6 separate regions of the Homo sapiens genome follow, and all the other regions are linked to region 4. The links come from fine-mapping of genetic effects on gene expression. A gene starts in region 4. Each other region holds a variant in brackets. All regions are shown on one strand. Distances are between the middles of the regions.

What was found. PIP is the estimated chance that this variant, and not a neighbour inherited with it, causes the effect.
Region 1: its variant is the best candidate, but not a certain one, in a credible set for the expression of NAGLU in esophagus mucosa (GTEx, PIP 0.80).
Region 2: its variant is the best candidate, but not a certain one, in a credible set for the expression of NAGLU in T cells (TOPMed, PIP 0.62).
Region 3: its variant is the best candidate, but not a certain one, in a credible set for the expression of NAGLU in whole blood (INTERVAL, PIP 0.56).
Region 5: its variant is the best candidate, but not a certain one, in a credible set for the expression of NAGLU in whole blood (TOPMed, PIP 0.66).
Region 6: its variant is the best candidate, but not a certain one, in a credible set for the expression of NAGLU in whole blood (INTERVAL, PIP 0.89).

Annotation. Positions count from the first base shown.
Region 1 is chr17:42,725,159-42,730,027 of GRCh38, reverse strand. It overlaps EZH1 (enhancer of zeste 1 polycomb repressive complex 2 subunit), which reads left to right. Exons shown (of 21, transcript NM_001991.5): 3 at 1,076-1,203; 4 at 2,265-2,393. The coding sequence starts at 1,087. Among named protein-coding and RNA genes, the nearest start is that of EZH1, 17 kb to the left of the region's middle. The variant A/T (reference allele first, on the strand shown) is at 2,611.
Region 2 is chr17:42,627,921-42,632,789 of GRCh38, reverse strand. No RefSeq gene overlaps it. Among named protein-coding and RNA genes, the nearest start is that of TUBG1, 21 kb to the right of the region's middle. The variant G/A (reference allele first, on the strand shown) is at 2,419.
Region 3 is chr17:42,423,094-42,427,852 of GRCh38, reverse strand. It overlaps CAVIN1 (caveolae associated protein 1), which reads left to right and starts at 4,597. Exons shown (of 2, transcript NM_012232.6): 1 at 4,597-4,759. The coding sequence starts at 4,756. It overlaps LOC102725238 (a long non-coding RNA gene), which reads right to left and starts at 4,665. Exons shown (of 4, transcript XR_007065758.1): 1 at 4,581-4,665; 2 at 2,791-2,962. The variant T/G (reference allele first, on the strand shown) is at 2,291.
Region 4 is chr17:42,533,339-42,538,158 of GRCh38, reverse strand. NAGLU (N-acetyl-alpha-glucosaminidase) reads right to left here and starts at 1,918. Exons shown (of 6, transcript NM_000263.4): 1 at 1,504-1,918; 2 at 614-761. The coding sequence starts at 1,886. It also overlaps the pseudogene PTP4A2P1. RefSeq lists silencers at 1,416-1,485, 1,606-2,015 and enhancers at 875-1,612, 2,126-2,205.
Region 5 is chr17:42,445,866-42,450,734 of GRCh38, reverse strand. It overlaps LOC102725238 (a long non-coding RNA gene), which reads right to left. Exons shown (of 4, transcript XR_007065758.1): 4 at 478-2,234. Among named protein-coding and RNA genes, the nearest start is that of ATP6V0A1, 11 kb to the left of the region's middle. The variant T/G (reference allele first, on the strand shown) is at 2,434.
Region 6 is chr17:42,437,862-42,442,730 of GRCh38, reverse strand. All of the region lies in intron 3 of LOC102725238 (a long non-coding RNA gene), which reads right to left. It also overlaps the pseudogene RNU7-97P. Among named protein-coding and RNA genes, the nearest start is that of CAVIN1, 17 kb to the right of the region's middle. The variant G/T (reference allele first, on the strand shown) is at 2,559.

The DNA.
Region 1 (4,869 bases), 190 kb before region 4:
CTTGCTCTGTCGCCCAGGCTGGAGTGCAGTGATGTGATCTCGGTTCACTGCAACTTCCACCTCCCGGTTTCAAGCCATTCTCCTGCCTCAGCCACCTGAGTAGCTGGGATTATAGGCGTGTGCCACCACATCCAGCTAATTTTTGTATTTTTAGTAGAGACGGGGTTTCAGCATCTTGGCCAGGCTGGTCTTGAACTCCTGACCTCGTGATCCACCCACCTTGGCCTCCCAAAGTGCTGGGATTACAGGCATGAATCACCATGCCCGGACTTTTTTTTTTTTCTTTTTTGAGATGGAGTCTCACTGTGTCACCCAGGCTGGAGTGCAGTGGTGCGATCTCGGCTTACTGCAACTTCCACCTCCCAGGTTCAAGAAATTCTCGTGTCTCAGCTTCCCACATAACTGGGATTACAGGCACAAGCCACCATGCCCGACTAATTTTTTTTTTTTTTTGTATTTTTAGTAGAGACGGGGTTTCACTATGTTGGCCAGGCTAGTCTTGAACTACTGACCTCAGAAGATCCACCCACCTTGGCCTCCCAAAGTGCTGGGATTACAGGCGTGAGCCACCGTGCCTGGACTTCTTGTTGTTTTTTGTTTTTTTGTTTTGTTTTGTTTTTTGAGACAAGGTCTCACTCTGTCACTCAGGCTGAAGTGCAGTGGCGTGGTCACGGCTCAATGCAGCCTTGACCTCCTGGGCTCAAGCAGTCCTCCCACATCAGCCTCCTGAGTAGCTGGGACTACAGGCACTGGCCAACACATCTGGCTAACTTTTGTATTTTCTGTAGAGATGGGGTTTCACCATGTTGCCCAAGGTTGTCTCAAATCACTGGGCTCAAGTAGTGCTCTCACCTCGGCTTCCTAAAGTGTTGGTTTTACAGGTGTGAGCCCCTGCCTCTTTTTTTTAAATTGAAACTTTCTGTTGAACTCACACATTTGGGTTCTTTAAATGTGTGTTTTTATGAGTAAATTTAATGGGAATGAAAGCATAATTGATCTTTTTTTTTTTTTTGTATTTGAGGAATGCTTTATTTCCAGGCAATAAAATGCTATTTCTCATCTCTGTCTCTCTTAGATTACAGCAAGATGGAAATACCAAATCCCCCTACCTCCAAATGTATCACTTACTGGAAAAGAAAAGTGAAATCTGAATACATGCGACTTCGACAACTTAAACGGCTTCAGGCAAATATGGGTGCAAAGGTAAAAAATAATTCCCAAGTGAAAGTTTATATATTTCAATATACTGACCCAGTGTAAAGGGGTTGGAATTTTTTTTTTTTTTTGAGACAGAGTCTCACTCTGTCACCCAGGTTGGAGTGCAGTGGCGTAATCTCAGCTTACTGCAAGCTCCACCTCGCAGGTTCACGCCATTCTCCTGCCTCAGCCTCCCGATTAGCTGGGACTACAGGCGCCTGCCACCACGCCCGGCTAATTTTCTTGTATTTTTAGTAGAGATGGGGTTTCACCATGTTAGCCAGGATGGTCTCGATCTCCTGACCTCGTGATCCGCCCGCCTCAGCCTCCCAAAGTGCTGGGATTACAGGTGTGAGCCACCGCGCCTGGCCCAGGGGTTGGAATTTCTTTTTAACTTTTGTTTTGAAATCGTAACAGGGCCAGGTGCGGTGGCTCACACCTGTAATCCCAGCACTTTGGGAGGCTAAGGCAGGTGGATCACCTGAGGTCAGGAGTTCGAGACCAGCCTGTCCTACCTGGTGAAACCTCGTCTCTACTAAAAATACAAAAATTAGCCGGGCGTGGTGTCATATGCCTGTAATCCCGGCTACTTGGGAGGCTGAGGCAGGAGAATTGCTTGAACCCAGGAGATAGAGGTTGCAGTGAGCCGAGATGGCACCACTGCACTCCAGCCTGGGTGACAGAGCAAGACTCCATCTCAAAAAAAAAAAAAAAGGCCAGGCACGGTGGCTCATGCCTGTAATTCCAGCACTTTGGGAGGCTGAGGCAGGCAGATCACTTGAGGCCAGGAGTTTCAAACCAGCCTGGCCAACATAGTGAAACCCTGTCTCTACCAAAAATACAAAAATTAGCCAGGTGTGGTGGTCTGTGCCTGTAATCCCAGCTACTTGGGAGGCCGAGGTAGGAGAATCGCTTGAACCCGGGAGGCGGAGGTTGTGGTGAGCTGAGATCGCGCTACTACACTCCAGCCTGGGTGACAACAGAGCAAGACTCCATCTCAAAAAAATAAATTATTAATTAATTAATAAAATAACAATATATCTTAATCTTTTCCATGGCTTTGCTAGGCTTTGTATGTGGCAAATTTTGCAAAGGTTCAAGAAAAAACCCAGATCCTCAATGAAGAATGGAAGAAGCTTCGTGTCCAACCTGTTCAGTCAATGAAGCCTGTGAGTGGACACCCTTTTCTCAAAAAGGTACTTTTGGGAGTTTAAGCTCAGTCTTCCTCTCTTCCTTGGGCTTAAAGCTTTTTCCTATATTTGTGACTTTTTAGAAAGTGAATAAGTAAGACAAGGTATGGTGGCTCACACAAGTATTCCCAGCTATTTGGGAGGCTGAGGTGGGAAAATCGCTTGAGGTGAGGAGTTTGAGACCAGCCTGGGCAACATAGACTGTGTCTCTAAAAAATTTTTT[A/T]AAAAAGTAGCCAGACATGGTGGTGTAGTCCTAGCTACTTGTGAGGCTGAGGTGGAAGGATTTCTTGAGCCCAGAAGTTCAAGGCTGAAATAAACTATGATTTCACCACAACACTCCAGTCTGGGTTGACAGACAAGACCTTATGTCCAAAAAAGAAAAAGGAAAGAAAGGAAATAAATAAATAAGGTTAAGGTTAATAGATACAGCTATTTTAGTCAACTTTGAATAATTAAGATAGTAAATCTGCAGCTTCAAGAATAATTACGGGGGCTGGACGCAGTGGCTCACACCTGTAATCTCAGCACTTCGGGAGGCTGAGGCAGATGGATCACTTGAGGCCAGGAGTTTGAGACCAGCCTGGCCAACATAGCGAAACACTGTCTCTACTAAAAATACAAAAGTTAGCTGCGTGTGATGGTGCACACCTATAATCCCAGCTACTTGGGAGGCTGAGGCCTGAGAACCTCTTGAACCTAGGAGGCAGAAGTTGCAGTGAGCCAAGATCACACCACTGCACTCCAGCCTGGGTGAAAGAGTGAGACTGTGTCTCAAAAAAAATAATAAATAATAAATAAATAAAAGAATTTTCTAGTTAAGAAACTTTGGCTGGACGCGGTGGCTCACACCTGTAATCCCAGCACTTTGGGAGGCCGAGGTGGGTGGATCACCTGAGGTCAAGAGTTTGAGACCAGGCTGGCCAACATGGTGAAACCCCATCTCTACTAATAGTACAAAAAAATTAGCCAGGCATGGTGGCACACTTCTGTAATCCCAGCTACTAGGGAGGCTGAGGCAGGAGAATTGCTTGAACCCGGGAGGTGGAGGTTGCAGTGATCTGAGATGGCACCATTGTACTTCAGCCTGGGCAACAAGAGCAAAACACCATCTCCAAAAAAAAAGAAACTTTATGAAAATAAATTATCATTATTATTATTTAGAGACAAGATCTCACTATGTCACCCAGACTGGAGTGCAGTGTCATGATCATAGCTTACTGTAACCTCCAACACCTGGGAAATAGATAATATTTTTAAAATATAAAAAGTAAATATTATCTAGGCATGGTAGTGTATGCCTATAATCCCAGCTACTCGGGAGGCTGAGGTGGGAGAATCACTTGAACCCAAGAGTTCAAGGCTGCAGTGAGCTATGATCTCCAGCCTGGGCGACAGCGAGACTCCGTCTCAAAAAAAAAAAAAAAAAAGAGACTGTCTCTTAAAAAAAAAAAAAAAAAGCAGAAGCTGGGTGCAGTGGCTCATGCCTGTAATCCCAGCACTTTTAGAGGCTGTGACAGGTGGATCACCTGAGGTCAGGAGTTCAAGACCAGCCTGGCCAACATGGTGAAACCCTGTCTCTACTAAAAATACAAAAATTGGCCGAGCGTGGTGGCGTGCACCTATAATCCCAGCTACTCAGGAGGCTGAGGCAGGAGAATTGCTTGAACCTGGGAGGCGGAGGTTGCAATGAGCCAAGATCGTGCAACTGCACTCCAGCCTGGGCGACAGAGTGAGACCCTGTCTCAAAACAAAAAACGAAAAGCAGATAGTGTATTGAGAGCAAATATCTTTCCTGAAGCAGAATGTTACTATAATTTCTATACCACTTTGCTTCTCCATGTACTATCCCTATCACCTATGCAGCTAAGTTGATGTCCACTGTCTTAAAGTTTAGGTCTTCAGAAAACTTCCTCATCTTTTAGGACTTTCAGAGGCTCTTTACTGTTGTGTATAACCCAGGTAGACCAACAGTTTGAGCTGAGGTAAACATCAGCTGAGTATGGGAAGTACTGTGCTGAACTCTATAGAGGACACAAAGGTGAATAAGAGTCCCTTCTTTTGGCTGGGCATAGTGGCTCACACATGTAATCCCAGCACTTTGGGAGGCTAAGGCAGGATGATTGCTTGAGTCCAGGAGTTGGAGACCAGCGTGGGCAATATAGCGAGACCCTGTCTCTACAAAAAAAAAAAAGAAAAATTAGCTGTTTAACTGGATGTAGTAGCACATGCCTGTAATCCCAGCTTCTCGGGAGGCTGAGGTTGGAGGATGGCTTTAGCCTGGGAGGCAGAGGCTGCAGTGAGCTGTGATTGCACAACTGCACTCAGCCTGGGCAACAGAGTGAGATCCTGTCTCAAAAAAAAAAAAAGAGTTTCTACTTTCCACAAGTTTGCAGTCTAGGGATTCCTTTTAGGAGATGATGTTACAAAACTCTGAATTTATTAAGTTGTTTTTAAAATTTTGTTTTTGTTTTTTTTGAGACGG
Region 2 (4,869 bases), 95 kb before region 4:
ACATAGAAAATCCTAAGGCATGTACCAAAAAAAAAAAAAAGCTAATATGGGAGTTTAGAACTAATAAGGGAGTTTAGAAAGGTTATGGGATATATAGTCCATATAAATAAGTCAGTTGCATTTTTTTTTTTTTAGACAGAGTCTTGCTCTGTCACCCAGGCTGGAGTGCAGTGGCGCGATCTCTGCTCACTGCAACCTCTGTCTCCCAGGTTCAAGGGATTCTCCTGTCTCAGCCTCCCAAGTAGCTGGGACTACAGGCGCCTGCCACCACGCCCAGCTAATTTTTTGTGTTTTTAGTAGAGACGGGGTTTCACAGTGTGAGCCAGGATGGTCTTGATCTCCTGACTCATGATCCGCCTGCCTCGGCCTCCCAAAGTGCTGAGATTATAGGCGTGAGCCACCATGCCTGGCCATCAGTTACATTTTTTAATTAAAAATTGTTTATTTTTTAAAAAAACTTATAAAGTACATATAACATAAAATTTACTATTTAACCTTTTTAACTTTTTTTTTTTTTTTGAGACACGATCTCTCTCTCTGCTGACCAGGCTGAAGTGCAGTAGTAGCATGATCATAGGAACCTTGATTTCTTGGGCTCAGGTGATCCTCCCACCTCAGCCTCCTGGTTAGCTGGAATTATAGGTGTGTGCCACCACGACCTGTTAATTTCGTGTGTGTGTGTGTGTGTGTGTGTGTGTGTGTGTGTTTTATTTTTTTGTAGAAACAGAGTTTTTCCATGTTGCCCAAGCTAGTCGATTTTAAACTATTTATTTATTTATTTATTTTGAGACAGGGTCTTGCTCTGTTGCCCAGGCTGGAGTGTAGTGGCACAATCATGACTCACTGTAGCCTCAACCTCCTGGACTCAGACAATCCTCCTGCCTCAGCCTCCCAAGTAGCTAGGACTACAGGTGTGTGCCACCATACCTGGCTAATTTTTGTATTTTTTTGTTTTCGCCATGGGTTGTTTTGTTTTGTATTTTTTGTTTTGTATTTTTGTTTTCTCCAGATATGGGTTTTTGCCATGTTTTCCAGGCTGGTCTGGAACTCCTGGGCTCAAGTAATCCTTCTGCCTCAGCCTCTCAAAGCACTGGGATTACAGATTTTAACTATTTTTAAACATACAGTTAAGTAGTATTAAATACATTAAGATTGTGCAACCATTGAGATGTCTTCTTAAGCACAATTTTTAAATTTTTAAAAATCTTTCTTTCCTTTTTTTTCTGATGGAGGAACAGGGTCTCAGCTGGAATGCTATGGTGCAATTATAACTCACTGCAGCCTTGACCTCCTAGACTCAAGCGATCCTCCCACCTCAGCCTCCCAAGTAGCTGGGACTACAGGCATATGCCACCATACCTGGCTAATTTTTTTTTTTTTTTTTTTGGACAGAGTCTCACTCTGTTGCCCAGGCTGGAGTGTAGTGCTGCAACCTCCACCTTCCAGGTTCAAGCGATTCTCCTGCCTCACCCTCCCAAGTAGCTGGGATTACAGGCATGCACCAACATGCCCAGCTAATTTTTGTATTTTTAGTAGAGACCGCATTTCACCATGTTGGCCAGGCTTGTCTTGAACTCCTGACCTCAAGTGATCTGCCTGCCTCAGCCTCCCAAAGTGCTGGGATTACAGGTGTGAGCCACCACGCTGGGCCATGTGGCTAATTTTTGTATTTTTTTTTTTTTTAGAGACAGGGTCTTGCTATGTTGTCCAGTTGGTCTCCAACTACTGGGGTCAAGTAATCCTCCTGCCTCAGCTTCCCAAAGTACTGGGATTGTAGGTGTGAGCCACTGTGCCCATCCTAAACACAAAATGTTTAACACGAATCATTATATTTATATAAGCCTAATGGAATGAGGGCCGGGCATGGTGGCTCATGGCTGTAATCCCAATATTTGTGAGGCCAAGGCAGGAGGAACACTTGAGGCCAGGAGTTCTAGACCAGACTGGGCAACACAGCAAGACCCTGTCACTACAAAAAAATAAATATTGGCCTTTTAGGAATTCATAACTCTTTATTTCACTAGTTAAGGATTTAAATAGTATTAGCTGGTGCTTCAATTATTTGTAAGCCACAGTTAGCAGACTTTAGTTCAACAGCATCGCAGGGTGCATGTTGAGTTCCTGGCAGTAACAAATCAATAACATTTTACTTCTGATTTTGTTTGAAAGAAAACCTTATGATGGGCCAGGCACAGTGGCTTATGCCTGTAATCCCAGCATTTTGGGAGGCCAAAGTAGGTGAACTGCTTGAATCTAGGAGTTCAAGACCAGCCTGGGCACCACGGTGAAACCCCGTCTCTATGTTATTAAAAAAATTGTATTTTAAAAGGAAACCTTAGGCCAAGCGCAGTGGCTCACACCTGTAATCCCAGTACTTTGGGAGGCCAAGGCAGGTGGATCACCGGAGGTCAGGAGTTC[G/A]AGACCAGCCTGACCAACATGGTGAAACCCTGTCTCTACTATAAATACAAAATTAGCTGAGCATGGTGGCGCATGCCTGTAATCCCAACTACTCGGGAGGCTGAGACAGGAGAATCACTTGAACCTGGGAGGTGGAGGTTGCAATGAGCTGAGATCGCACCACTGCACTCCAGCCTGGACAACAAGAACGAAACTCTGTCTCAAAAAATAATAATAATAAATAAATAAAATGAAACCTTACGATGATTTCATTTTATATGTGTCTGGGTTTGCTTTTTCTTCCCCAGATGATGTGTTTGTTGGTTAAGCGTATGTATGGCACAAGTATATGTGATATGTTTCTTTCATTTGTATTGGAAAAGAATTAATTTTACCAAGTATTATTTATGTTCCCAAGTGATTGTTAGAATTGAGTAATGCAAACGACTGATAATAGGAATCTGGCTTCTACTCAACTTGAAAAAGAGGTATTGGTGCCAATGGTAAACTCCTTATCTGCACTAGCAGAGGGCTGGTATTGTACACATTTCCCTGAAACAGAATATCTAAATGGACTCTGTGTCCTTTTGAATGTATCACAATCTTAGAATAACAGACTCCTCTAGAAGCCGAACCCCTTATTTTACAAACCCCTAACCCCCATCAGACACAGGTGTTCCCCTTCCAGTTTTTCTCTCGTACCTTGTCCAACCTTCATTATAGCCCTAATCACACAGGTACATGATGAGTTATTTACATTAACACATAAACAATGGAATGAGCAATTCTTCAGCCATACTATATCTTGCTCATCTTTGTTGTCTTCAGCACTTAGCACAATGCCTGGAACTTACTAGCTACTCAATACATATTTGTTGAGCAACAGAATGATGAAACTGAGGCCCAGGGACAGGAAGTGACCTGCCCAAGATCACAAATGTAGTAACAACATTCTGAGAGACAGGTTATGATAACATTTTAATTACATTACATTGCTGGGAAACACATAGTAAGAAGCCAGAACAGAGCTGGATCTTGGAATAAAATTTTGATCACAGGTTATTGACAGAATTAAAATTAATGGCTGGGCACAGTGGCTCACACTTGTAATTCCAGCACTTTGGGAGGCCAAGGAAGGAGAATTGCTTGAACCCAGGAGTTTCAGACCAGTTTGGGTAACATAGTGAGACCCTGTCTCTACAAAAAATAAAAAAATTAGACAGGTGTGGTGGTGTGCACCTGTAGTCCCAGTTACTTGGGAGGCTAAGGTAGGAGGATTGCTTGAGTCTGGGAGGTTGAGGCTGCAGTGAGCCATGATCCTGCTACTGCCTTCCAGCCTGGATGACAGAGTGAGACCTTGTCTCAAAAAACAAAGGAGAAATTCACGTGACAATTCACAGCATCAAAAGTTGACTCTGTCGGCTGGGCACAGTGGCTCATGCCTGTAATCCCAGCAGTTTGTGAGGCCGAGGCAGGTGGATCACCTGAGGTCAGGAGTTCATGACCAGCCTGGCCAACATGGTGAAACTTCATCTACTAAAAATACAAAAATAGCTGGGCATGGTGATGCACATCTATAATCCCAGCTACTAGGGAGGCTGAGGCAGGAAAATCACTCAAACCTGGGAGGCGGAGGTTACAGTGAGCAGAGATCACGCCACTGCACTCCAGCCTGGGTGATACAGCAAGACTCCATCTCAAAAAAAAAAAAAAAAAAAAAAAGAGTTGACTCTTTCGTCTATCTTCAGAGTTTTATTTTTTTAATTCCTTAGTTTTGTTTTTCTTGCTAATGCTGTACCTTAGGAATGGTGGGTCCATGTTTGTAGACAAGAGAAGCCACCTTGGTTGTTTTTCCCATAGCTGGGAAAGGCTAGAACACAAGAAGTCCCAATTCTATGGAAGGGCAGGGAGATCTTTCCCTATCCCGAGGATCCATAGGCCTTCAATTGTGTTCATGATGAATCTTTGTGAGATGTATAGAATCATTTTTGGCATAGTTTGGGGAAGGCTGGTGGTAACCCCAGCATATGTGTGCATATGATGAGCATTTAGGCTTGTACCAAAATCAAGGCTGTATTTGATGAGGCAGAGAGGGTTGGAGTAGGATGTCAGCATGAGCGAATACCAGCTCAATGGTGGCTGCGGCCTTTGAGAAGGTCAAAGTGACCCAGGAAATGTAATCTGGCCAGTGGCCGGGTGGCAATTGTCACTGAGCTCAGCAGAGTCTTCCCTGAAGACTTTCCAGAAAATCTCTGCTCCAGGAGGCCTCAAGGTGCTGACTCTGGCTCTTCTACTGACAGCTGGAGTGTGTGTGTGTGTGTGTGTGTGTGTGTGTGTGTGTGTGTGTGACAGAGAGAGAGAGAGAGAGAGAGAGAAAGACAAGAAGGGAGAAGGAGGAACACAGAAAAGACGTGGCCTAGTAGACCTAGGGAAAGTTTTTTTGTTTGTTTGTTTGTTTGAGAGTCATGCTCT
Region 3 (4,759 bases), 110 kb after region 4:
AAAGTGCTGAAATATATATATGTATGATCATATATGCAGAAATAGTCTATAGAAGATTCCGCAAGAGAATAGTAATAATAGGCTTGGCATGGTGGCTCACACCTGTAATCCCAGCACTTTGGGAGGCCGAGGTGGGTGAATCATCTGAGGTCAGGAGTTCAAGACCAGCCTCGCCAACATGGTAAAACTCCTTCTCTACTAAAAATACAAAAATTAGCCAGGCGTAGTGGCACATGCCTGTAATCTCAGCTACTTGGGAGGCTGAGGCATGAGAATTGCTTGAACCCGGGAGGCAGAGGTTGCAGTGAGCCGAGATGGTGCCACTATACTCTAGCCTGGGAAACAAGAGCAAAACTCCACCTAAAAAAAAAAAAGAGAATATAGTAATAATTGATGTCTCCTGGAAAAGAAACTAGTTGCTGGGATAGAGATAAAATTTTTTAGAGGCCGGGTGCTGTGGCTCATGCCTGTAATCCCAGCACCTTGGGAGGCCGAGGTGGGTGGATCACCTGATGTCAGGAGTTCGAGACCAGGCTGACCAACCTGGTGAAACCCCGTCTCTACTAAAAGTACAAAAAATTAGCTGGGCGAGGCCAGGCACAGTGGCTCACGCCTGTAATCCCAGCACTTTGGGAGGCCGAGGCAGGCGGATCATGAGGTCAGAAGATCGAGACCATGCTGGCTAACATGGTGAAACCCCGTCTCTACTAAAAATACAAAACATTAGCCAGGCGTGGTGGCAGGCACCTGTAGTCCCAGCTACTTGGGAGGCTGAGGCAGGAGAATCGCTTGAACCCAGGAGGCGGAAGGTGCAGTGAGCTGAGATCATGCCATTGCACTCCAGCCTGGGCAACAGAGCAAGACTCCGTCTCAAAAAAAAAAAAAAATTAGCTGGGCATGGGGGCACACACCTGTAATCCCAGCTACTTGGGAGGCTGAGGCAGGAGAATCGCTTGAACCCGGGAGGTGGAGGTTGCAGTGAGCCGAGATTGTGCCATTGCACTCTAGCCTGGGTGACAGAGAGAGACTCCATCTCAAAAAAAAAAATGATAATAATAATAATCATCATCATCTAAGGATCTTATGGGACACTTAAGAAATGAAGGTCCTATAAGGTTCTCTACTGTCACTCCTCTTTTTTCCAAAAGCTTTTTCAATCCTTAGTAGAAGGAATTTAAATTACTTTAATACATTTCTCCTAAATTCTAAAGTAAGTTGGTAATCTGCCAGTTCTAGCAGTTATATGTGTATATATGATCTTATATACTAGCTTAATTCTACTTGAGCCTCAAATGAGAAAGCCATTTGTTTGTGAGAAAACAGTTATTGAAGTGTTAGGGTACCCGGTGTGGTGGCACACCTGTAGTCCAAGCTACTTGAGAGGGTGAGGTGGGAGGATCACTTGAGTCCAGGAGGTCAAGACTGCAGTGAGCTGTGATTGTGCCACTGCACTCAGCCTGCATGACAGAGCAAGACCTTGTCTCAAAAAAAAAAAAAAAGTTGGAAAAAACACAAAGCCGAAGTGGCTCACGCCTGTATTCCTAGCATTTTGGGAGGCCAAGGCAGGTGGATCCCTTGAGCCTAGGTGTTTGAGACCAGCGTGGGCAACACGGTGAAACCCCATTTCTACAAAAAATACAAAAATTAGCTGGGTGTGATGGTGTGCGCTTATAGTCACAGCTATTTGGGAGGCTGAGGTGGGAGGATCACCTGAACCCGGGAGTTCGAGGCTGCAGGGTCAACAGAGTGAGACTCTGTCTTAAAAAAAAAAAAAAAAAGGCGGGGCACAGTGGCTCACACCTGTAATCCCAGCACTTTGGGAGGCCAAGGTGGGTGGATCACGAGCTCAAGAGATTGAGACCATCCTGCCCAACATGGCGAAACCCCGTGTCTACTAAAAATACAAAAAAAAAATTATCTGGGTGTGGTGGTGCGTGCCTGTAGTCCCAGGTACTCGGGAGGCTGAGGCAGAAGAATCGCTTGAACCCAGGAAGTGGAGGGTGCAGTGAGCCAAGACTGCACCACTACACTCCAGCCTGGCAAAAGAGTGAGACTCCATCTCAAGAAAAAAAAAAAAAAAAAGGAAAAAAAGAGGTTACCAGTAACCACGTATCTTGCCTTTCTAGCAGAAACAGTACTTCAGGATAACCTGATAAACAGCCCTAGTTGATGGCTCCATTTTCTATGAGAATTTCGGATAACAAATATGGTGTTGTAAACCCTTAAAAAACCCTACAATGTTGTTAGGGCACTAACCCAGTCCCTGCACTGTCGGTCTCCTTTCTGAGTT[T/G]GTGGGTTCTCTGTCTGGGTTGAGGAGGCCCTGGGTCCCCATAGACCAGTTTTTCACTCTTCCTAATGATAATGGATACCAGACTAGAAGTGACCTTTTGCCAGGACCATCATCCAGCCAGCTGGGGAAACCCAAGTGTGGTTTCCTAAGGAGGGAAAAGGGTTGCCGCTTTTCTGTGGGAAAGGGAGCTGGCGCCACTTCAGACACTCACAGCACCAGTGCTGTGCTAGACAGCAAAATGGGGGAGGATGGGCAGCCTCCCTATTTCTGGACTTTCTGCACTAAGGACCCTCCTTGGGCCTGCTCAGAATTGCCTGCTCCCTTGTACCCAGCATGGATGAAAATATGCTTTGGTTAATCTTCTGAAACAGCACATGGGAGTTGGGGAGTGGCTGTGGGTGCCTGTCTCCCTGCCCCAGTGGAAGGCTTAGAGCAGAAGGTGGAAAGAGCATGAAAGCAGGAGTCCAGACCTGGGTTCAAGTGCCAATGCCAACACTAACCTGCGAGTGATCTCTGGCAAGCCACCTGTCTTCTGCAGGCTTTCCTTTTCCTGTCTGTCAAATGAGGGGGTGGGATTTGATGGTCTCTCCGATGGCTTACTGTTAGTCCCTGGAATCTTGAAAGAGAAATGGACTCCTAGATCCTGCTCACTGAGATTGGTGTCAGCTGCCTCTGAGGGGGCGGTGGGAGGGGGAACACAGGGAAAGGTGAGTTTTAGAGAGAGGTGAGACGTGGGTTTGTGGGTTGCTTTTGTTTTTGTTTTTTTTGTTTTTTTGAGACAGAGTCTCACTCTGTCTGCACTCAGACAGTGGATTACCAACTGGCAGATTACCAACTTACTTTAGAATTTAGGAGAAATGTATTAAAGTAATTTAAATTCCTTCTACTAAGGATTGAAAAAGCTTTTGGAAAAAAGAGGAATTCTACTCTGTAGAATTCCACTCAGGCTGGAGTGCAATGGCGCGAATCTCAGCTCATTGCAACCTCTGCCCCCCGGGTTCAAGTGATTCTCCTGCCTCAGCCTCCCGAATAGCTGGGATTACAGGCATGCGCCACCACGCCTGGCTAATTTTGTATTTTTAGTAGAGATGGGGTTTCTCCATGTTGGTCAGGCTGAGGTCGAACTCCCGACCTCAGGTGATCCACCCACCTCCGCCTCCCAAAATGAGCCACTGCGCCTGGCCTAATTTTTGTATTTGTAACAGAGACGGGGTTTCACCATCTTGGGCCAGGCTGGTCTTGAACTCCTGACCTCGTGATCCACCCGCCTGGGCCTCCCAAAGTGCTGGGATTACAGGCATGAGCCACCGCGCCTGGCCTAAGAGAGGTGGGCTTTTAAAAAGGGCTTTACACCAGGCGCGGTGGCTCCCAGCACTTTGAGAGGCTGAAACCAGCAGATCACTTGAGCTCAGGAGTTCGAGACCAGCCTGGTCAAAATAGTGTACACCCCGTCTCTTAAAAAAATAAAAATTGAAAAAAATAAAAATTGAAATTAGCTGGGCGTGGTGGCAAGCGCCTATAGTCTCATCTACTCAGGAGGCTGAAGTGGGAGGATTGCCTGAGCCCAAGAGGTCGAGGCTGCAGTGAACTGTGATCAGACCGCTGCACTCCAGCCTGGGTGACAGAGTGACACCCTGTCTCAGAAAGGGGGGTTGGGAGGTGGGCTTTATTTTCCGTTTGATTGCCCATCTTAATTCTACTCTGTTAGGGCAATTCTAAAAAGAACTTAGAGGAGCTTCGCAGCCCTTCACCACCACCGTGACCCCAAATACGTTCTCTCTTTCTCCCCCCGCCCCCCACAAACAACCCCCTAAGCTTACCCCTGAGTTAGTAACCTGGTTGGGGTTGGTGATGAGGAAATCCGAGAGGCCTCTTAGAAAATATTGTAAAGGGCAAGGGTCCTTTTGTGCTCAAAATCTAGGTAAAGGCAAATACAAGATTTTGCCTATAATTTCAGAATCTCCTGGTCCACCCGGCTCCCAGATCTTGAGGATTTTCGGATGAGCAATTCAAGTGAGAGGGAAACAGAGAGCAACACTCTTAGAACCTGATTCCGTTCCTCAGCTCGCATTCCTCCGCCCGTCCCGCTCCCGCCGCCAGCGGAGGCCCTAGTCTCCCGCTCCAACTATTCCAACCATCCCGGGAAGGGTGGGGCGCTCGGCTCTTGGGTCCCCCTCCGCCGCCCCGCCTCGTCGATCTCCCCTTCTGCCCCGGTCCCTCCCTTTCTGGGGTGGGGCCAGCCAATCAGCGATCAGACTCCGGAGTTTGGCCCGGGAGCTGGGGAGCTCACCGATCCCCCGCCCAGCAGTTCTGGCCGCTGTCCCGGTGCGCACGGACGTGGCTCGAGTTTCCTCTGCTCTCCGCTCTCGCCCGCTAGCTCTCCTCCCTTCCGCTCCTGCTTCTCTCCGGGTCTCCCGCTCCAGCTCCAGCCCCACCCGGCCGGTCCCGCACGGCTCCGGGTAGCCATGG
Region 4 (4,820 bases):
ACTGTGTTGCCTTTGTCGCATGGGTGAGGAGATGGGGCACAAAGGGGCTTTCCCCCAACAGGAAGGCCTTAGAAGGCTTCATGGAGCAAGAGTGCCAGATGGAAGGGCAGGGCAACTGTGTGAAGAGCTTAAGCAGAGCCTGGAGCAGCCATTGCAGCACAGAAGCTTCCAGGGAGGCAGATCTAGAGCTGCCCATGAGTTGGATCCAAGGGACCAGGTGATTGGCTGCATAGGGGAGATGGGGGAAGGAGCCCCACTCCTCAAACTGGAAGCCTCAGTTTTTTTTTTTTTTTTTTTTAGACAGAGTCTCGCTCTGTTGCCCAGGTTGCTATTTCTTTGTATTTTAGTAGAGACGGGGTTTCACAATGTTGGCCAGGATGGTCTCGATCTCCTGAACTCCTGATCCGCCCGCCTAGGCCTCCCGAAGTGCTGGGATGACAGGCGTGAGCCACCGCGCCCGGCCGGAAGCCTCAGTTTTTAGGAGGCCCAAGCCACTGTGCACGCTGAAAGCACTTCTAGAGAGAGACACTGCGCCCATGCTGGGGGGCGGGTGAAAACACCTACGGTGGCTCCCGCCATAGAGGAGGGTGGGGAAGGGACAGTGGGCACGCACCCGCTGCCAGATGGCCTCCTGGCCGCTCCAGGCCAGTGCCAGGTTGATGCCATTCAGCGCCATCCAGTCTATCTCTCGCTCCCAGCGGGCCCAGTCCCACCACACGAAAGAGTAGCTTTGCGTGCACACATTCTGGTAATAGCGGTACCTGCGGGCAGTGTCATGAGCAGGGGCGCATCCCACCCTGGAGGGTCCACGGCCCTGGAACAAATCCCCCATCCCCCACCTAGAGGAGAGGGGAGGGGCTCCAAACTCGGCCCTTCTGCTGCACACTGGGACCCACCCCAGGTGGAGCTGAGACCAGGTACCGGGGCTGGGCTTCTGAGGCACTCGTCCCCTGCACTCTCCCAGGGCCCTCTAGCCTGGCGGGTATTTGGGTGGCATATTCCACTTTCATGCCACACTGCCAGAGCCCCTCCTCTGCACGGTGTTTTCCTGGAACGGGGAATCCCTGCCCCCACAGTCTAACAGATGGGCAGGGGAGGACAGCTGTGTGAACACATCACTCCATAGTGTGGCAGGCGCTGGAACACAGGCCTGTAGGGTGGGGGATGGAGGCGTCCTTCCTCAGTCCGCAGGTTCAAAGAGAAGGTGGGGGAGGAAGGCAAGAAAATTCACTCATCACCAATTGTGCACCACAAATTCTATGCCCATCATCGTGCAAATCCTCACAATAACACTGCACGGTAGGCGTCTTCTTTCCGTTTTTCAGGTGGGCCAGCCGAGGCTCTGAAAGGCAGAGTGGCTGGCTCAAGGCCACACAGCTGCTGGAGGCGGCGCAGCTGGGCCTTCCGGCCAGCGCTCCCCGCTCAGCCTCCCGATTTGGGTGGCAGCGGCTCCGGGAGGGGGTAAGCGCCTCGGGCGGACGCGGGGAAGCTTCGGGGCGGTACCTGTTGGGCGTGGCCTCGGTCAGCTCCCCCGGCACGGCTGGCAGTGGCCGCGGCAGGCGCAGCTGAGAGCCGGACCAGGCCACGTGGCAGCCACAGAAGTCGCGCAGGTAGCGGTGCAGCCCCGCGGCGGCCGCCACGCCCGTGGAGCCGCGCACCCGCACGCGCGCCGCGCCGCCGCCGCCCAGGCTGTAGGTGTCCAAGCCCGGCTTGGCAGCCAGAGCGCGCTCCACCGACACGGAGAAGTCGGCCGCGGGGCCTGGCCCCAGCAGCCGGGCCACGAGCGCCCGCACGGCCGCCGCCTCCCGGGCCTCGTCGCCTGCCGCGCCCCCGGCCCCGGCCAGGAGAAGGACCCCCACCGCCGCGGCCACCGCCACCGCCTCCATGGTCTCAGTCCTGCGGGTCCCGCGACGGCCAGGGGGTGGGGCGGCCCGCGTCCAATCAGCTGCCGGCCTCCGGCCACGTGGACCCGAAGGCTAAGCCCGGGCTCAGGGCCAGGAGTCGCGGCTTCCGGGTACCAGGATACTCCCTTGGGGGCGTCTCGTGACCGCACGCGGTGGGGAGCGTGTGACCCCGGCTCCAGGGCCGAAGGGGACCCGCTGGCCCTCACAGAGCGCCTTCGGGTAAAACGCGCTTTCACACGCAAATAACTTCCATCCAACCATCTAATAAATACACATTTGGAGTTTATTTTGTATCAGGCACTGCCATAGCTACTTCCCTACTGATGAACGAGAAGACGGTCCCTACCGTCCCCGTCAGGGAGGTGACCTAGAAACCAGATATTTAACGTAAGTAAGGATTTCCATCATAGTTGTGATGCTGCGAAGTAGTGCAGTAAGTAGCGAAGTAGCGAAGTAAGGTTTCCAAAGGAAGTGACTTTTAATCTGAAACTCAGGGATGAATAGGAATTGGCTAGAAGAGGGAAAGGAAGAGCCTTCCAGACAGAAGAAATGCATTTATTGAAGGCCCTGAGAAGGCAGAGAGCTTGCAGATTTGAGTAACTAACAGGCTAGGAGGTTCGAGGAGGGATGGGGCCATGTGAGCCCAGGCCGGCGGTGGAGCAGGGCTGGCGGGCACGTTAAAGGCTGTCCATTGGCGGCAGCAGCAGCAACATAACAGGAGCTGTCATTTTGTCAGAAGTTTCCAACCAGAGCGACTCCATCTTGAACAGGGGCTGGGTAAAATGAGGCAGAGACCTGCTGGGCTGAATTCCCAGGAGGTTAGGCCTTCGTCACAGGATGAGACAGGAGGTCAGCACAAGATAAAAGGTCACAAGACCCCGCTGATAAAACAGAATGCAGCAAAGAAACTGGTCAAAACCTGCCAAAACCAAGACAGGAAGGTGACCTCTGATCGTCCTCACTGCTCATTATACGCTAATTATAATGCATTAGTATGCTAAAGACACTCCTAGCAGCGCCAGGCAGTTTACAAATGCCATGGCAACGTCCAGAAGTTACCCTATATGGTCTAAACAGTGGAGGAACCTTCAGTTGGGGGGGATCCCCACCCCTTTTCTGAAAAATTCATTACTAACCCACCCCTTGTTTATCATATAATCAAGAAATAACCATAAAAATAGCCAACCTTAGGCCAGGAGCGGTGGCTTACGCCTGTAATCCCAGCACTCTGGGAGGCTGAGGCTTGCAGATCACCTCAAGTCAGGGGTTTGAGACCAGCCTGGCCAACATACAGTGAAACCCCGTCTGTACTAAAAATACAAAAGTTAGCCAGGTGCTGGGCGCGGTGGCTCACGCCTGTAATCCCAGCACTTTGGGAGGCCAAGACGGGCGGATACGAGGTCAGGAGATCAAGACCCTCCTGGCTAACACGGTGAAACTCCATCTCTACTAAAAATACAAAAAATTAGCCGGGCGTGTTGGCGAGCGCCTGTACTCCCAGCTACTCGGGAGGCTAAGGCAGGAGAATGGCGTGAACCGGAGAGGCGGAGGTTGCAGTGAGCCAAGATCACACCACTGCACTCCAGCCTGGGGGACAGAGCAAGACTCCCTCTCAAAAAAAAAAAAAAGAAAAAAAGTTAGCCAGGCTTGGTGGCACACGCCTGTAGTCCCAGCTACTTGGGAAGCTGAGGCAGGAGAATCGCTTGAACGCTGGAGGTGGAAGTTGCAGTGAGCCAAGATCGTGCCATTTGCATTCCAGCCTGGATGACAGAGCGAGACTCCATATCAAAAAAACAAACAAACAAACAAAAAAAGTTGAAAGAGGCCTGGAATCAGATATCAACTTTAGATACTAGGGAAGTATGATTTTTTTTTTTAATCTCAGCTCACGGGAACCTCAGCCACCCAGGTTCAAGCCATTCTCCTGTCTCAGTCTCCTGAGTAGCTGGGATTACAGGCACGTGCCACCAAGCCCAGTTAACCTTTGTAGGGATGGGATTTCACCATGTTGTCCAGGCTGGTCTCGAACTCTTTTTTTTTCTTAAACATTTTATTCATTTTATAGAGAGATTTCTTGTTTGCTTTTGTTCTGATCATTAGGAGAGTGGTTGAGGAGTATTGAATCCATCACTACTTTGATGACACAGGTAAGAGTCCAGATTCACATTTCCAGGTACCAGGAGTTCCCTCTAAATGCCACAATCAAGTCAGCCTTCATTTACATTTCTTTCTGCTGAACACAGCAATGCCCATTGGTATCTCTGAAGCGTAATCGCATCTTAAGTAAAGCAGCTGTTTGGAATTTAACACTCCCCTTCTTTTTTGTCTTATAAACTGAACTGCATCTACGTACTTCATTCCACATTCAATCAAAGCAAGTGCAACCAGCACAGGTGCCCTTCCCAATTCCACAACGCAATGCACTGCAACACAGCAACCTGGCTCTTCACGAAATTTGGTGTTTAACAGGTTTAACCAATCATCTACTATCTGATTAGGGGATGGAGCTCCATCATCAAATGGCCAATCTAGAACGTGGATTCCTTCTTTTTCAACTGGAGCTTTATCATATGTAGCATCACAAACTCAAACCGAAGTCGTCACTCCATACTTCTTAAGTTCCTCTGTGAACTTGTTGAGAGTAGCATTGGTAGGGTTGTGAGTTATCAGAAAACACATGTTCTCATAGGAGATCTCCACAGGGGCTAGACGGTTCATTACGGCAAATAAAAAGTGTGAGCGTGCCTGTGAGTGTGATGGGGAAAGTGAAAAAAAAAATCAATAAATCTTGAAATGTTTAACAACAGAAAACATTAAAAAGACCATGAAAATGCCTATTATCAATCAGTGTTTTCTCTATTCAACTTGTTTATTCCTTATGAAGCTTCTCTCTTCAAGATAAGCAAAGTATTTAGA
Region 5 (4,869 bases), 87 kb after region 4:
CTGACCTCATGATCCGCCCGCCTCGGCCTCCCAAAGTGCTGGGATTACAGGCGTGAGCCACCGCGCCTGGCCCGAGTGTATCTCTTTGTGTAGATTTTTTAAGTGGTTGTAATGGGTTTCATATTATACATATATAAATTATCACAGTCAACTGATGTCAATATTTTTTCTTTTTTCTTTCTTTTTTTTTTTTTTTTTTAAGACGGAGTCTCTCTCTATCGCCCAGACTGGAGTGCAGTGGCGCAATCTTGGCTCACTGCAACCTCTGCTTCCCAGATTCAAGCGATTCTCCTGCCTCAGTCTCCTGAGTAGCTGGGATTGCAGGCATGTGCCACCATGCCCGGCTAACTTTTGTATTTTTAGTAGAGACAGGGTTTCACCATATTGACCAGGCTGGTCTTGAACTCCTGAACTCAGGTGATCCACCTGCCTCGGCCTCCCAAAGTGCTGGGATTACAGGCGTGAGCCACTGTGCCTGGCCAACTGATGTCAATATTTTTATCAGCTTGAGTGAAGTATAAAACTCTTACCTCCATTTTAGTCTTTTTACTTTCCCATTTACAACATAATTGTCTTAAATATTTCCTCAACATACTTTGCAAACCACATTGGACAATGTTACACAGTCTGCTTCAACCATCAAACATAATTGAGAAAACTCAAGAGGAGAAGTGTTTTTTTTGTTGTTGTTGTTTTGTTTTTTTTTTATTGATCATTCTTGGGTGTTTCTTGCAGAGGGGGATTTGGCAGGGTCATAGGACAATAGTGGAGGGAAGGTCAGCAGATAAACAAGTGAACAAAGGTCTCTGGTTTTCCTAGGCAGAGGACCCTGCGGCCTTCCGCAGTGTTTGTGTCCCTGGGTACTTGAGATTAGGGAGTGGTGATGACTCTTAATGAGCATGCTGCCTTCAAGCATCTGTTTAACAAAAACATCTTGCACCGCCCTTAATCCATTTAACCCTGAGTGGACACAGCACATGTTTCAGAGAGCACAGGGTTGGGGGTAAGGTCATAGATCAACAGGATCCCAAGGCAGAAGAATTTTTCTTAGTACAGAACAAAATGAAAAGTCTCCCATGTCTACTTTTTTCTACACAGACACAGCAACCATCCGATTTCTCAATCTTTTCCCCACCTTTCCCCCTTTTCTATTCCACAAAACCGCCATTGTCATCATGGCCCGTTCTCAATGAGCTGTTGGGTACACCTCCCAGACGGGGTGGTGGCCGGGCAGAGGGACTCCTCACTTCCCAGTAGGGGCGGCTGGGCAGAGGTGCCCCCCACCTCCCGGATGGGGCGGCTGGCCGGGTGGGGTCTGACCCCCCACCTCCCTCCCGGACGGGGTGGCTGGCCGGGCGGGGGCTGACCCCCCACCTCCCTCCCAGACGGGATGGCTGCCGGGCGGAGACGCTCCTCACTTCCCAGACGGGGTGGCTGCCGGGTGGAGGGGGCTCCTCACTTCTCAGAGGGGGCGGCTGCCGGGCGGAGGGGCTCCTCACTTCTCAGACGGGGCGGCTGGGCAGAGACGCTCCTCACCTCCCAGACGGGGTCACGGCCGGGCAGAGGCGCTCCTCACATCCCAGACGGGGCGGCGGGGCAGAGGTGCTCCCCACATCTCAGACGATGGGCAGCCGGGCAGAGACGCTCCTCACTTCCTAGATGGGATGGCGGCCAGGAAGAGGTGCTCCTCACTTCCTAGATGGGATGGCGGCCGGGCAGAGAAGCTCCTCACTTTCCAGACTGGGCAGCCAGGCAGAGGGGCTCCTCACATCCCAGACAATGGGCAGCCAGGCAGAGACGCTCCTCACTTCCCAGACGGGTTGGCGGCCGGGCAGAGGCTGCAATCTCGGCACTTTGGGAGGCCAAGGCAGGCGGCTGGGAGGTGGAGGTTGTAGCGAGCCGAGATCACGCCACTGCACTCCAGCCAGGGCACCATTGAGCACTGAGTGAACGAGACTCCGTCTGCAATCCCGGCTCCTCGGGAGGCCGAGGCTGGCGGATCACTCTCGGTTAGGAGCTGGAGACCAGCCCAGCCAACACAGCGAAACCCCGTCTCCACCAAAAAAATACGAAAACCTGTCAGGCGTGGCGGCGCGCGCCTGCAATCCCAGGCACTCGGCAGGCTGAGGCAGGAGAATCAGGCAGGGAGGTTGCAGTGAGCCGAGATGGCAGCAGTACAGTCCAGCTTCGGCTCGGCCTCAGAGGGAGACCGTGGAAAGAGAGGGAGAGGGAGACTGTGGGGAGAGGGAGAGGGAGAGTGAGACCGTGGGTAGAGGGAGAGGGAGAGGGAGAGGGAGGAGAAGTGTTATAGACTGAATTGTGTCTTCCCAAATTCCTATGTTGAATCCCTAACCTCTATTGTGACTGTACATTGGAGACAGGGCCTTTAAAGATGTAATTAAGATTAAATGAGGGCCGGGCACGGTGGCTCAC[T/G]CCTGTAATCCCAGCACTTTGGGAAGCCACGATGGGCAGATCATTTGAGGTCAGGAGTTTGAGACCAGCCTGACCAACATGGCAAAACTCTGTCTCCACTAAAAACACAAAAAAATTAGCCAGGAGTGGTGGCACACACCTGTAATCCCAGCTACTCGGGAAGGTGAGGCAGGAGAATTGCTTGAACCCGGGACACAGAGGTTGCTGTGAGCCGAGATTACGCCATTGCACTCCAGCCTGGGCAACAAGAGTGAAACTCCGTCTCAAAAAAAAAAAAAGAAAAGAAGAAAAAAAGGACACCAGCCGGGCTTGGTGGCTCACACCTGTAATCTCAGCACTTTGGGAGGCCGAGGTGGGAGGATCACTTGAGGTCAGGAGTTTGAGACCAGCTTGGCCAACATGTTGAAACCCCCGTCTCTACTAAAAAAAAAAAAAAGAAAATTATCTGGGTGTGGTGGCACATGCCTGTAATCTCAGCTACTCGGGAGGCTAAAGTAGGAGAATCACTTGAACCTGGGAGGTGGAGGTTGCAGTGAGCTGAGATTGTGCCACTGCACTCCATCCTGAGCAACAGAGCAAGACTCCGTCCCCCCCCACAAAAAAGGACACCAGTCCTGTTGGATTAGCCCGGCTAATTTTGTTTTTTCGGTAGAGATGGGGTTTCTCCATGTTGGCTTGTCTCGAACTCCCGACCTCAGGTGATCCGCCTGCCTTGGCCTCCCAAAGTGCTGGGATTACAGGGGTGAGCCACCACGCCCGGCCCAGTGTCCTTTTCAGAAGAGGAAAAAGCACCAGGAGTGGTCACACACAGACAAAAGGCCATGGGAGGACACAGCAAGAAGGTGGCCATCTACAGGCCAAGAAAAGAGGCCTCAGGAAAAACCAAACCTACCAACACTTTGGTCTTAGACTTCCAGCCTCCAGAACTGTGAGAAAATAAATTCTGTTGGTTAAGTTACCCAGTCTGCAGTATTTTGTTATGGAAGCCCTAGATGACTAATACAAGAAGGAAAGTATATTGCAATTACTCATATATTTGCTTTCCACGTTCTTTTTTCTTTCTTTTTTTTTTTTTTTTGAGACAGAGTCTCGCTCTGTCACCCAGGCTGGAGTGCAGTGGTGCGATCTCAGCTCACTGCAAGCTCCGCCTCCCGGGTTCACGCCATTCTCCTGCCTCAGCCTCTCTGAGTAGCTGGGATTACAGGCACCCGCCACCACGCCCGGCTAATTTTTTATATTTTTAGTAGAGACGGGGTTTCACCGTGGTCTCGATCTCCTGACCTCGTGATCCGCCCGCCTCGGCCTTCCAAAGTGCTGGGATTACAAGTGTGGGCCACTCCACGTTCTTTTTTCATCCTTGATGTTCCAAGGTCCCTTCTTTTATCATTTCCCTTTCTTTTCAAGAACTTCCTTTAGCTTTTTTTTTTTTTTTTTTGAGATGGAGTCTTGCCCTGTCACCAAGACTGGATTGCAGTGGTGCGATCTCTGCTCACTGCAACCTCCACCTCCCAGGTTCAACCGATTTTCCTGCCTCAGCCTCCAGAGTAGCTGGGACTACAGGCATGTGCCACTATGCCTGGCTAATTTTTGTATTTTTAGTAGAGACTAGGTTTTGCCACGTTGGCCAGGCTGGTCTCAAACTCCTGGCCTCAAGTGATCCGCCTGCCTCGGTTTCCCAAAGTGATGGGATTACAGGCATGAGCCACTGCACCCGGCCCCCTTTTAGCCACTTTTTTAAAGGGTAGATCTACAAATGACAAATTCTCTTAGTTTTTCTTCATCTGAAAATGTGTTGATTTCTCTTTCATCTTTGATAGTTTTTTTCTTCTAGCATTTGAAAAAAGTTGTGCCACTTTCTTCTGGCCTTTTTTAGTTTCTGGTGAGAAATCTATTGTGGTTCAATCTGTTTTTCCCTTATGAGAAAGATGTTTTTCTCTTACTGCTGTCAAGATTTTTTCTTTGTTATTAGTTTTCAGGAGTTAGATTATTACGTGTCCTGGTATAGATTTCTTTGAGTTTATCATGTTTGTGGTTTTCTCAGCTTCTTGAACTTGTAGTTCTAGGTCTCTTGTCAAATTTGAGGAATTTTCTGCCATTATTTCTTCTTTTTTTTTCTTTTTCTTTTTTTTTTTTTTTTTTTTTTTTTTTTTTTTTTTTTTTTTGAGACGGAGTCTCGCTCTGTCACCCAGGCTGGAGTGCAGTGGCGCGATCTCGGCTCACTGCAAGCTCCGCCTCCCGGGTTCACGCCATTCTCCTGCCCCAGCCTCCCGAGTAACTGGGACTACAGGCGCCCGCCACCACATCGGGTAATTTTTTTTTGTATTTTTAGTAGAGACGGGGTTTCACTGTATTAGCCAGGATGGTCTCGATCTCCTGACCTCGTGATCCTCCTGCCTCGGCCTCCCAAAGTGCTGGGATTACAGGCGTGAATCACCA
Region 6 (4,869 bases), 95 kb after region 4:
ATTGTTTTAAAGAAAAAATAATAAAGTCAAAAAAGTGAAAAAAATAATAAAAGGGCATGGGGTTTCTTTTCAGGGTGATTTTTTAAAGTTCTGAATTTTTTTTTTTTTTTTTTTTTTTGAGACAGGGTCTCACTCTGTCACCCAGGCTGGTGTGCAGTGGCATCATCACAGCTCACTACAGCCTTGACTTTCTGGGCTTAAGCGAGCCTCCCACCTCAACCTCCCAAGTAGCTGGGACTACAGGTACTGGGACTCCCGAGTAGCTGGGACTATAGTTTATGCACAGAATTTGAGCCTCCCTCTCTGTGGCTCTTATTTTGATAGGATTTCCTCCCATTATTTCCACCTGCTGGGGTTGCCCTGAACAATTCAAGCTAGTAAGACTGCAGGGTTTGGGTTTTTGTTGTTTTGTTTTTGTTGTTGTTGTCGTCGTTTTAAGAGATAAGATCTCGAGCACAGTGGTTCATGCCTGTAATCCCAGCACTTTGGAAGGCTGAAATGGGCTGATCACCTGAGGTCAGGAGTTCAAGACCAGCCCGGGCAACATGGTGAAACCCTGTCTCTACTAAAAATAGCTGTAGTCCCAGCTACTCAAGAGACCGAGGCAGGAGAATCACTTGAACCCGGAAGGCAGAGGTTGCTGTGAGCTGAGATCACGCCACTGTACTCCAGCCTGAGCAACAGAGTGAAACTCTGTCTCAAAAAAAAAAAAAAAAAAAAGAGATGAGGTCTTACTGTGTTGCCTAGGTTGGAATACAGTGGGTATTCACAGGCACAATCTTAGTGCTCTACAGCCTTGAACTCCTGTGCTCACGGTTTCCTCACACGTCAGCCTTCTGAGTAGGTGAGACTACAGGCGCACACCACTACCCCCAGCTTTGTTTTAACCACTCACTTTGCAGACTTTGGACTTCCCTTAGACTAAAAGCTGTAAAAACACAGGAAACCCATTCAGTCCTCTTCTCTTCCAGGTATCCACCTCTGTGCAGTATATTCCTCCTGTTGTTTGCTAATGCCTTCAGGTAGTTTTTGTTTGTTCTTTAATATTTTGCTCTGAGTATATCATTCTTATTTACAGAAGACTTGGTGTGATGGGAATTACTCAGCCATAATTGGAACTTCCTCCTGTGTTTTTTGACATATTCCCATCATTTTGCTGGGGTGTTGGGGGTGGCAGGGGACTTCCTTAATTTCTATCACAATAGGATATTTTAAGCTTAGCTTATACTTTCCTTGTTCCAGCCCTGAAGTCATCCATTTCTCTAAGAAGCTGTTTCTTTGTTGTGAGGAATAATATTTAGAAACCAAGATCTTGGTACCAAGCCTGCTCATTGTTACATTGTGTTATTGCTTCTAAGCCTTCAACACACAGAGGCCAAACCTCTAGCTCTATCTCTACAAATGTATATGAAGTTATGGGTTTATACTGATGCCTCTAACACCAGTTCCACCCATCTAAGGTTCCTTTGTATTCCCTAATTCATATTTAAATCTACTTTTTTCCTACAGTGAGAACTCTAGCTTCCACATTCTTTTATATGTCATTTGCTTAATTCTATAATATGCACAATATAATGTCATAATTGCTATTCCCATACCACTTCTCCTTCAGTACAGTTTTGTTGTTCATTTGTAACATGAGTTAATTTCTGTTTTCATTCAGTTTAGGGTCTCCTCCAATCTTGGGGATTTCATTTATTGAATTTATCATTTTATTTCCAAATATTCTATTTTCAGGCCAGGCATGGTGGCTCACACCTGTAATCCCAGCGATTTGGGAGGCTGGGTCAGGAAGATCACTTGAGCTCAAGATTTTGAGACCAGCCTGGGACACATAGTTCCTGTTTCTGCAAAAGAAAAAAAAAGAAAAGGAAAAAAAAGTATATATATGTTCTATTTTGAAAACTGCTGAATCTTTTGTTGTAATAGCTTTATTGAGATATAATTCATATACCATACGACTCACCCATTTAAAGCGTACAAGTCAACAATTTTTAATACTCACAGAATTGTGCAACCATAGCCACAATTAATTTTAGAACTTTCCACTCGGGCGCAGTGGCTCCTGCCTGTAATCCCAGAACTTTGGGAGGCCAACTTGGGCAGATCACCTGAGGTCAGGAGTTCAAGACCAGCCTGGCAAACATGGTGAAACTCCATCTCTACAAAAATACAAAAATTAGCCGGGCATGATGGCGGGTGCCTGTAATCCTACCTACTCGGGAGGCTGAGGCAGGAGAATTGCTTTAACCGGGGAGGTGGAGGTTGTAGTGAGCCGAGATCACGCCATTGCACTCTAGCCTGGGCGACAGAGTGGGACTCCATCTCAAAAAGAAAAAAAAAGGAAAAAAAAGAAACCTCAGCAGAGGAGGAAAAACTGTAAAAAAAAGAAAAAAAAAGAATTTTGTGCATAGAAATTGAAAATTTGGAAATGAAAATTTCAGACTAAAAATTAAAATGTCAAAGAAATCAAGTATTACAGCTCTTTTAGAATCCGTCTAGCAGGTTTTCCAGTTTTTACCAGAAAACTCTCCAAAAAAATTTTTTTTAAATAGTCC[G/T]GGCATAGTGGCTGACACTTGTAATCCCAACAGCTGGGGAGGCCAAGGCCGGAGGATTGCTTGAACCCAGGAATTTGAGACCAGCCTGGGAGATCCTGTCTCTACAAAAAATAAAAAAATAAAAAAAAAATCCTGTCTTTACAAAAAAAAAAACAACACAAAAAATTAGTCAGGTAAGGTGGCATGTACTTGTAGTCCTAGCTAATTGGGAGGCTGAGGTGGGAGGATTGCTGAGCCCAGGAGGTTGAGGCTGCAGTGAGCCATGTTCATGGCACAGCATTCCAGCCTGGGCGACAGAGTGAGACTTTGTCTCAAAAAAATAAATAAGGGCTGGGCACAGTGGCTGTAATCCCAGCACTTTGGGAGGCCAAGGAGGGCAGATCACTTGAGGTCAGGAGTTTGAGACCAGCCTGGCCAACATGGTGAAACCCCGTCCCTACTAAAAATACAAAAATTAACTGGGCATGGTGGTGTGCACCTGTAATCCCAGCTACTCAGGAGGCTGAGGCAGGAGAATTGCTTGAACCCGGGAGGCAGAGGTTGCAGTCAGCCGAGATTGTGCCACTGCACTCCAGCCCAGCCTGGGGGACAGAGCAAGACTCCATCTCAAATAAATAAATAAATAAATAGGGCCAGGTGAGGTGGTTCACGTCTGTAATCCCAGCACTTTGGGAGGCCGAGGCAGGAGGATCACTTGGGCCCAGGGGTTTTATTTATTGTTTTAATTTAATTTAATTAATTTATTTATTTTTGTCATGGAGTCTCCTCTGTTGCCCAGGCTGGAGTGCAGTGGCGCCATCTAGGCTTACTACAACCTTTGCCTCCCAGGCTCAAGTGATTCTGTTGCCTCAGCCTCCTGAGTAGCTGGGACTGCAGGTGTGCACTGCCACACTTGGCTAGTTTTTGTATTTTTAGTAGAGACGGGGTTTCGCCAGTGTTGCCCAGGCTGGTCTCTCCTGGCCTTAAGTGATCTGCCCACCTCAGCCTCCCAAAATGCTGGGATTAAAGGCTTGAGCCACAGCACCCGGCCTGAGCCCAGAGGTTCTAGACCAGCCTAAGCAACATAGCAAAACCTCATCTCTCTCTCTCTCTCTCTATCTCTCCATATACATATATATATATTTGGCCAGGGGTGGTGGCGCTTGCCTATAATCCCAGATACTTGGGAGACTGAGGTGGGAGAATCACTTGAAACTAGGATGTGGAGGTTGCAGTGAGCCGAGATCGTGCCTCTACACTTTAGCCTGTGCAACAAAGGGAGACTCCATCTCAAAAAAAAAAAGATAACCTGACACTGGAAAAGTCTGGCAGATACCACCTTAACCTAATGATCAAGGCTAACATCACTAGTAATGGGGAAATCAAAATTGTGTACCACCTGACAGGATGCAATGAGAGCACAGCATCCCTTTCATGCTATTCCTGCTAAAGATAATACATTTCCTAAATCTAATCATGAGGAAACATCAGACAAGTCCAAACTGAGCAACATTTTGCAGATTAATTGTCCTATGATCATCAAAAGTGTCAAGGTTATGAAAGCCAAAGAAAGAATATTTCCCTGACTGAAGGATACTAAAACGATGCAGTAACTGCTAAGCATTACGTCTAATTGGATCGTTTATGCATAAAAGACATTATTGGGATAAATGGTGAAATTTTATCAGCTGCTGAGGATTAATTTCCTGATACTGATTATTGTATTATGGTTACAAAATGTATGTTGTCTATGTGGTTATGTATGTGTGTTTGGAGAAAATACACACTAAAGTATTTGGGGGTGATAAAACTTGTCAGGTTGTCAACTTACTTGCAAATAGTTCATGAAGAAATAATACTTTTGTACTTTAAAAAACAATTCTGGGCCGGGAGCGGTGGCTCACGCCTGTAATCCCAGCACTTTGGGAGGCCGAGGCGGGCAGATTGCCTGAGCTCAGGAGTTCACGACCAGCCTGGGCAACATGGTGAAACCCCATCTCTACTAAAATACAAAAAAATTAGCCAGATGTGGCAGCATGCACCTGTAATCCCAGCTACTCAGGAGGCTGGGGCAGGAGAATTGCTTGAACCCGGGAGGTGGAGGTTGCAGTGAGCCAAGATCACTGCACTCCAGCCTGGGCGACAGAGCAAGACATCATCTCAAAAAAAAAAAAAAAAAAAAACACTGTAAATTTAAAATAATTTAAACGTTTTAAAAGTGAATTTTTTGGCCGGGCACAGTGGCTCATGCCTGTAATCCTAGCACTTTGGGAGGCCGAGGTGGGCAGATCACCTGAGGTCAGTAGTTCAAGACCAGCCTAGCCAACATGAC